2 linked regions of the Homo sapiens genome follow. The protein of the gene in region 1 purifies or fractionates together with the protein of each later gene. This does not show direct contact. Each region holds a gene or a part of one and is shown in the gene's direction. Other genes may lie near its edges. The genes, in order: MATN3 and DNAJC10.

Region 1 (3,828 bases):
CGTACGGCCCCTGGAATTCACCAAAGTGAAAACTTTTGTCTCCCGGATAATCGACACTCTGGACATTGGGCCAGCCGACACGCGGGTGGCAGTGGTGAACTATGCTAGCACTGTGAAGATCGAGTTCCAACTCCAGGCCTACACAGATAAGCAGTCCCTGAAGCAGGCCGTGGGTCGAATCACACCCTTGTCAACAGGCACCATGTCAGGCCTAGCCATCCAGACAGCAATGGACGAAGCCTTCACAGTGGAGGCAGGGGCTCGAGAGCCCTCTTCTAACATCCCTAAGGTGGCCATCATTGTTACAGATGGGAGGCCCCAGGACCAGGTGAATGAGGTGGCGGCTCGGGCCCAAGCATCTGGTATTGAGCTCTATGCTGTGGGCGTGGACCGGGCAGACATGGCGTCCCTCAAGATGATGGCCAGTGAGCCCCTAGAGGAGCATGTTTTCTACGTGGAGACCTATGGGGTCATTGAGAAACTTTCCTCTAGATTCCAGGAAACCTTCTGTGGTAAGTTGGTCAGTCTTTGCTTCCAACTAGAAAGGATGTTATATTCAGACATTGTGTACCCAGAGAAAAGAGTATTATTCTTTTTTGGTGGAAATTTAATGAAAAACTTAAATATATCCAATGCGTGTGTGTGTGTGCACGTGTGCATGCGCGCGTGTGTGCGACCAACCTAAACACACTCTATTGGTTTAGGAATATAGAGCTGCATTATATGGAACTTGGTTTGCTCATAAAATCTTCATGTTTGCGTTAGAACTGTGAAGGTCTGCAAATATCCAGGATAAATGACCCTGCTGTTCCCTGTCAGGGTCAGGAAAAACAAAACTCAAGATGCCTCTCCTGTCCCCTCTGCCCCACCACTACATTTTTTTCCCCTGATACATATTTTTTTAGTTTTACCATCTCTAGATCTAACAGAACTCTGTTTGTTCTCCTGCAGAAGACAGGGAGAAGCGTCTGTCCTTGGGAGAGTCAGCAGGCCTCTATTCCAATGTCACCGTCAGCCCGAGTGTGCATTTAGTGAATGCTCTGGTTTTCAGACTGGGCTGTTTATCTGATTACTCTTTGTTGAAGAACAGGATTCAGGGACCAGGCAGATTAGGGTTTCAGCTCACTTGAAAGAAAGCAAGATGATCTTAAGAAATCATTCTGTTAACTCTGCTACTCCTTCCATCCTTTAGGATGGAATTTGAATAAGGACATGCTAATTTTATTGGAATTTTTAGCATGAATTGACCAAATCTAGGACTACAGATCCATTCAATGCTGGAGTTTAATTTTAGTCACTGATCAGAATTATGATCTGTGGGACTCATGCTTTATTTTTTTATCATCTGGAGATAATCTTTTGTTCCCTCTATGTGAATATCCAAGCAGTTGTGGACAAATTTCTAGTTCAGGTGAATTTTTAAACATAGATATCTTTTTGCAATATAATTTATTTCACACTTATTTATTCAGCATGCATTTATTGATCTCTGATGATACAAAGATAAAGGTAATCCCTCCATACCATTAAGTAACATTCTGGGGGTGGGGGTGAGACAAACAAATGAACCAATAATTAATTACAATTATACATTTCAAGGAGACTTTTAATCTAGGTTAATGTGAAACGCAGCCATCAATGGTTTGTCAGGAAAAGGGAGATGAAGTCTTGCTCTGGGGCAACGTTTGGCCTCATTGCAGTCAGACTTGGCTGGGATCCCCTTGTCTTTCCTGTCCCAGGACACTGGGCTTTCACAAGCCATCACTGGCTTTGGTGGCATCTACTTGGCATTCGTTGGCTTCCAAAAAGAAAGTGGCTTTCTTTCTCCCAGGAAATCACCCTCCCACTCCATGCTTGTGGGTGAGAGCCTCTCCATCAACATGCTGGTCTGTGGCAAAGTTGGGTTTCAAAGCTAGCACCTGGGGTTGGGCTTCGAAGGCTATAAAGTAACAAGTGGTGAGTGGCAATCTTTTCCTTCTGGTACAAAAGACCTGCTTGTTCTGGGGGAAAAACGTCCTCTCTATGGAAAAAAGACTGAGCGGCAGCTTGTTGTAGTCAACGGGTTGGAAAGATCATTCCATGAAAAGGCCCTTCTTGGGAAAATATTAGCCTTGTCCTGTTGCCAAGGGCAGTGGAGGTTGGGTTACCTGCCACAGGAGGGCCAGCCTCCTTCAACAGGCCTCCTTGGTTTCTCAGAAATGACTTAATTCATTGATTCATCTTTCAAAAGAGGTCACTAGGAAAAAAATATCCAATGAGATATAAATGGCTCCAGGAGCAATAAGATGGAGATGTAGTTTAGCTAATGTAATCTCATTTATTTTGTTCTTTTCTTTTTACCTGTTTGTATTAGCATATGAGTTCACTATGGATTTAGCGTATGGATGACTTCACCCACCTTACATATTCAGAAGACAGTTACCCGAACTGTCCTCTACCATTTGCATGTTCAAATATGTACCACTGCCCACCTGTGAGTTCGTTCTAGGCTTAGACCCAGACTTGTGTGAGAATTCTGTTTAGACATAGGCTATAGAACCTTGGAAATCAGATTCTGGCTACAATGGGACAACTAGCTCACGTCACTTCAGGCTGTGCATTTATTGTTCTCCCATTTCTTGTGGTGGGGAAGCACAAATCTTTTTTTCATGGGGAGGCGGATAAGCCAAATAAAACATCCAATTGCCTGGCCTATGTAAGTGTTTGGCTTCAGCTCCAAACTCCAAATTCCCTTTCTCCCTTGAGAAAGTCTATATAGCAAGATGTGTACTTTTAAATTAGCAACAATTTCTAGTTTAAGAGTAGCATTGCTAATAAGCCAGAGGCAGAAAACAAATAACCATTTTTTTATAGTGAAGTAAAGATGGACTCGGAAAGGAGCCCAGAGAGCAATGTCTATTGACATGGGAGACGGTATCTGAGATGTTTCCTAAGTGTCAGTGCTGACTGTTGTAAACTTCCTCTCACAGCGCTGGACCCCTGTGTGCTTGGAACACACCAGTGCCAGCACGTCTGCATCAGTGATGGGGAAGGCAAGCACCACTGTGAGTGTAGCCAAGGATACACCTTGAATGCCGACAAGAAAACGTGTTCAGGTGAGGCCTGTGTAGGGGGCCGTGACTGAATCAAATACTTGGGAACCTATGCTCCAGGTTTTGGACTGGCCTTGTGCTTTGACTCTCTGACCCCTTTTTACCTAACTGCCTTTTGGCTGGTTTACTGGTGTTCATCAGCAGTTTTCCCTGAAAAGGAGCTTAGGGAGAAAAGTGAAATGATAGATAAATCAGCTTATTTCCATACTTTGTAAGTTTTAAATAAAATCGTAGGAGAAAAGGCTACTAAGAAAGAGGTCCAGGCTGAGTGCAGTAGCTCATGCCTATAATTCCCACATTTTGGGAGGCTGAGATGGTAGGATAGTTTGAGGCTAATTCGAGATTAGCCTCGAGAACATGGTGAGACCCCATCTCTACAAAAAATAATTTAAAAAAAAAAGCCAGGTGTGGTGGTGCATGCCTGTAGTCCCAGTTACTTGGGAGGCCGAGATGGGAGGATTGTTTGAGACCAGGAGGTCGAGGCTGCAGTGAGCTATGATAATGCCTCTGCTGCACTGCCACAGAGGGAGACCTTCTTTCAGAAAACAGAACCCACACACACAAAAAGGAAAAGAAACGGGTCCAAGATTCTTAGCCCTTTTGAGGATTTGAAAATTTTCCTGGATTTTATTTCATTACATGCAAGCTACCCTCTTCCTCTCTAGTCATAGATGCTCATGGAATCTAGAAGTAGCAAAGAAGTTAGAGGGGTACTCACTGGTCTGGTACATAGATA
Region 2 (3,182 bases), about 160 Mb from region 1:
ATTTTATATCCATAAAGCAAAACCTTTTTATTTACCAATGCTGCTAGACCCTGACAACCACCACCCTACTTTCTATCAATATGACTACCATAGATATTTAATGTAAGTGAAATCATACACCATTTATCTTTTTGTGATTCCTTATTTTACTTAGCGTAAGTCCTCGAGACTCACCCATGTTGTAGCATGTGTCATAATTTTCTTGTTTTGAGACGGAGTCTTACTCTGTCCCCCTGGCTGGAGTGCAGTGGTGTGATCTCAGCTCACTGCAACCTCCACCTCCCAGGTTCAAGCGATTCTCCTGCCTCACCCTCCCAAGTAGCTGGGACTGCAGGCATGTGCCACCACGCTGGCTAATTTTTGTATGTTTAACGGAGACAAGGTTTTAGTGTGTTGGCCAGGCTGGTCTCGAACTCTTGACCTCAGGTGATCCGCCTGCCTTGGTCTCCCAAAGTGCTGGGATTACAGGCGTGAGCCACCGCACCCAGCCAATTTTCTTCCTTTTTAAGGCTGAATAATATTCAATTATATATACATTCTACATTTTGTTATTCGTCCGTTGATAGGCTGCCTTCACCCTTTGGCCATTGCAAATAATGCTGCTATAAACATGGGTGTACAAATATCAGAAACCCTGCTTTCAGTTCTTTCAGCTATATACCTAGAAGTGTAAGTCTATATCATAGTAATTCTATTTTTAATATGGGGGGACCTCCATACTGTTTTTCATAGCAGCTGCACCATTTTACATTCCCACCAATAGTGCACAAGAGTTCTGATTTTTCCACATCCTCACCAACACTCATTTTTTTTAAATAGTAGGTATCCCAATGAGTGTGCGTTCATATCCCATTGGAGTTTTGATTTGTACTTTTAGAGTCTTTAAATTATTACTTTTTCCATATCAAAGTACTTTGTGGGAAGTTGGTTATTTTACATTCTCATACCATGCTTTGTATTACTTTCCCATTTGGATGCCCTTTTCATCCTTCACCTCATCCTGTAAACCCAAAATCTAACTTAAATCCCAAATCCAACTTCCACTGTAAAGCCTTTGCTGACTTCTTTACTTCACATTGATTTCTGAATTTCTAAAAGTTCCTCATTGTCTACCACAAAACTAAGTATTTGTTTATAAGAAAAAGCTTTATTTAGTCCTATATTATTCTCTGATTATTCCATATGTTATCTTCCAAACTAGATTGTTAGGTCTTCAAGAGCAGAAGAAATTTATTTTATACTTATAAACTTCAAGATTTGCTGAAGTACTTTGGGTGCTAAATGCTTCTAGCTTATTCGTTTAGTTTACATGACTTTCTGCATGTGAAACTTGAGAAAACTGCAAATCTAATACCTTGGTCTTACAGAACTGAACAATACTTAAATGTGTTTAAACCTGCTATATAAAATGTCAGATGTAAAAGCGAATATCTAATGAAGCACCTTTTCCCTTTTCTAAAATTCAATAGTAAGGGCCAGGCACAGTGGCTCACACCTGAAATCCCAGCGCTTTGGGAGGCCGAGGCGGGTGGATCCCTTGAGGTTAAGAGTTCAAGACCAGCCTGGCCAACATGGTGAAACGCCGTCTCTACTAAAAATACAAAAAAAAATGGCCAGGCGTGGTGGTGCACGCCTGTAATCCCAGCTACTTGGGAGTCTGAGACAGGAAAATCGCTTGAACCCGGGAGGCAGAGGTTACAGTGAGCTGAGGTCACGTCACTGTACTCCAGCCTGGGCAACAAGAGTGAAACTCTATCTCAAAAAAAAAAAAAAAAATTACAATAGTAATAATTATGCCTTCTAACACTAAAATCAAATAACCTTACTTATCAGTTACATTGCCTACTAAGCTGACTTATTTTCTGACTTTTCCTTTGCTTTATTCTCTTATTTCTTCCAAGTAACCATATTCTCTTTTACCCTCCTGTTCAACTGTCTATGCTCCTTCTCTCTTTGTTCACTATTTTGATATTTAAATGTTATGACTTATTTTCAAGTAAATATTTTTTTAATTTCTTCATTTGGGATAAAATATTCACTACATAAATTTAGTGGATAAATACCCCCACAGAGATCGACCCTGCATGAAATGTGTTCCCTCAGAAGTAGGGCAATTCATTCATTATGAGATCAAGCCATAAAATTTAAATCCAAGCAGTAATTCTCCAATTAAAGTAACTCTAGAGCTTAGTTTTCAGTCCTCCTGAATCATAACTAGTTGGCAACAAAAACTAGTATGCCTTGGTGTGAATAAACCTTAACATAGAAACTCACCCAGCCTCAAAAGTTAAAAATTAAGAGAGATATGTATTCAGGTGGCCATTTATACACAATATTTTTGAATACTATTCTGGCCAAATTAGTATAAAATGGGTTACTCTAAAATGAAATTTTAAAAGTATATAAACATCTTAAACTTTAAAACTTCAGCCCAGCTAGAAGTCAACGTGTGTTTCTGAAACTATGCTGGGGAAAGTAGCTCTGTCCATAATGATTATATAGTTGTTAGCAAAATATTGGTCAAAACTTTTTCAGTTTAATGAGTTTCAAGATATTCTTCAAACTGGCCTCTGTGAACTCTTTCTTGACAAGTGAAACCTGGCTCCAACAATGACTACTTTATTCTACCTCTCATTTATTTTCTGTTTAATAAATCCAGTATTTGGGCATACAAACTGTATACAACATTTTATAACACTCTAATGTGGATAAGACACCTCAAAAACAGGAGTTTAGTCATTTCAGTCACATGTTTCTAATACATGATAAGATTTGCAGTTATCGTTTAATTAATTGCAATATGGAAATAGATACTAAAAAATCTAAATTGCATCTTACATTTCAACAATGGATGTTTAAAGCGTTTAAAAGTTATGTTTTGCATTTTACAACATATTGAAGATACACATTTTAAATTTAACTCTAAACAATGCAATAATCTAGAGAATCAGAGAATTGGATCCTGAAACACCTTATAAGTTCAGTCCTGTTGATTAGTATGTTTCCCTGTCCTAGAGTGCATGAACTTTCAAAGCCAGGACACAATCTTGTTCACTTTTCATGCCATCATCTTGACACTCAATACATGTTCAAAGAGTAAATTAAAGAAAAAAGAGATGCTCAAGTCAATTTATAAGTAATCCTCACAAATGCTTGCATACCATCAGTGAACAATTATTTTT

Evidence for each region.
Region 2: the proteins of MATN3 (region 1) and DNAJC10 purify together in Homo sapiens (co-immunoprecipitation; one large-scale study listed by IntAct). This does not show direct contact.

Annotation. Positions count from the first base shown.
Region 1 is NC_000002.12:20,002,428-20,006,255, reverse strand, and holds part of MATN3 (matrilin-3 precursor), read left to right. Parts: coding exon 1-512; intron 513-1,449; exon of another isoform or gene 1,450-2,236; intron 2,237-2,969; coding exon 2,970-3,095; intron 3,096-3,828. UniProt on the Homo sapiens protein: Major component of the extracellular matrix of cartilage and may play a role in the formation of extracellular filamentous networks.
Region 2 is NC_000002.12:182,789,031-182,792,212, forward strand, and holds part of DNAJC10 (dnaJ homolog subfamily C member 10 isoform 1 precursor), read left to right. Parts: 3' UTR 1-3,182. UniProt on the Homo sapiens protein: Endoplasmic reticulum disulfide reductase involved both in the correct folding of proteins and degradation of misfolded proteins.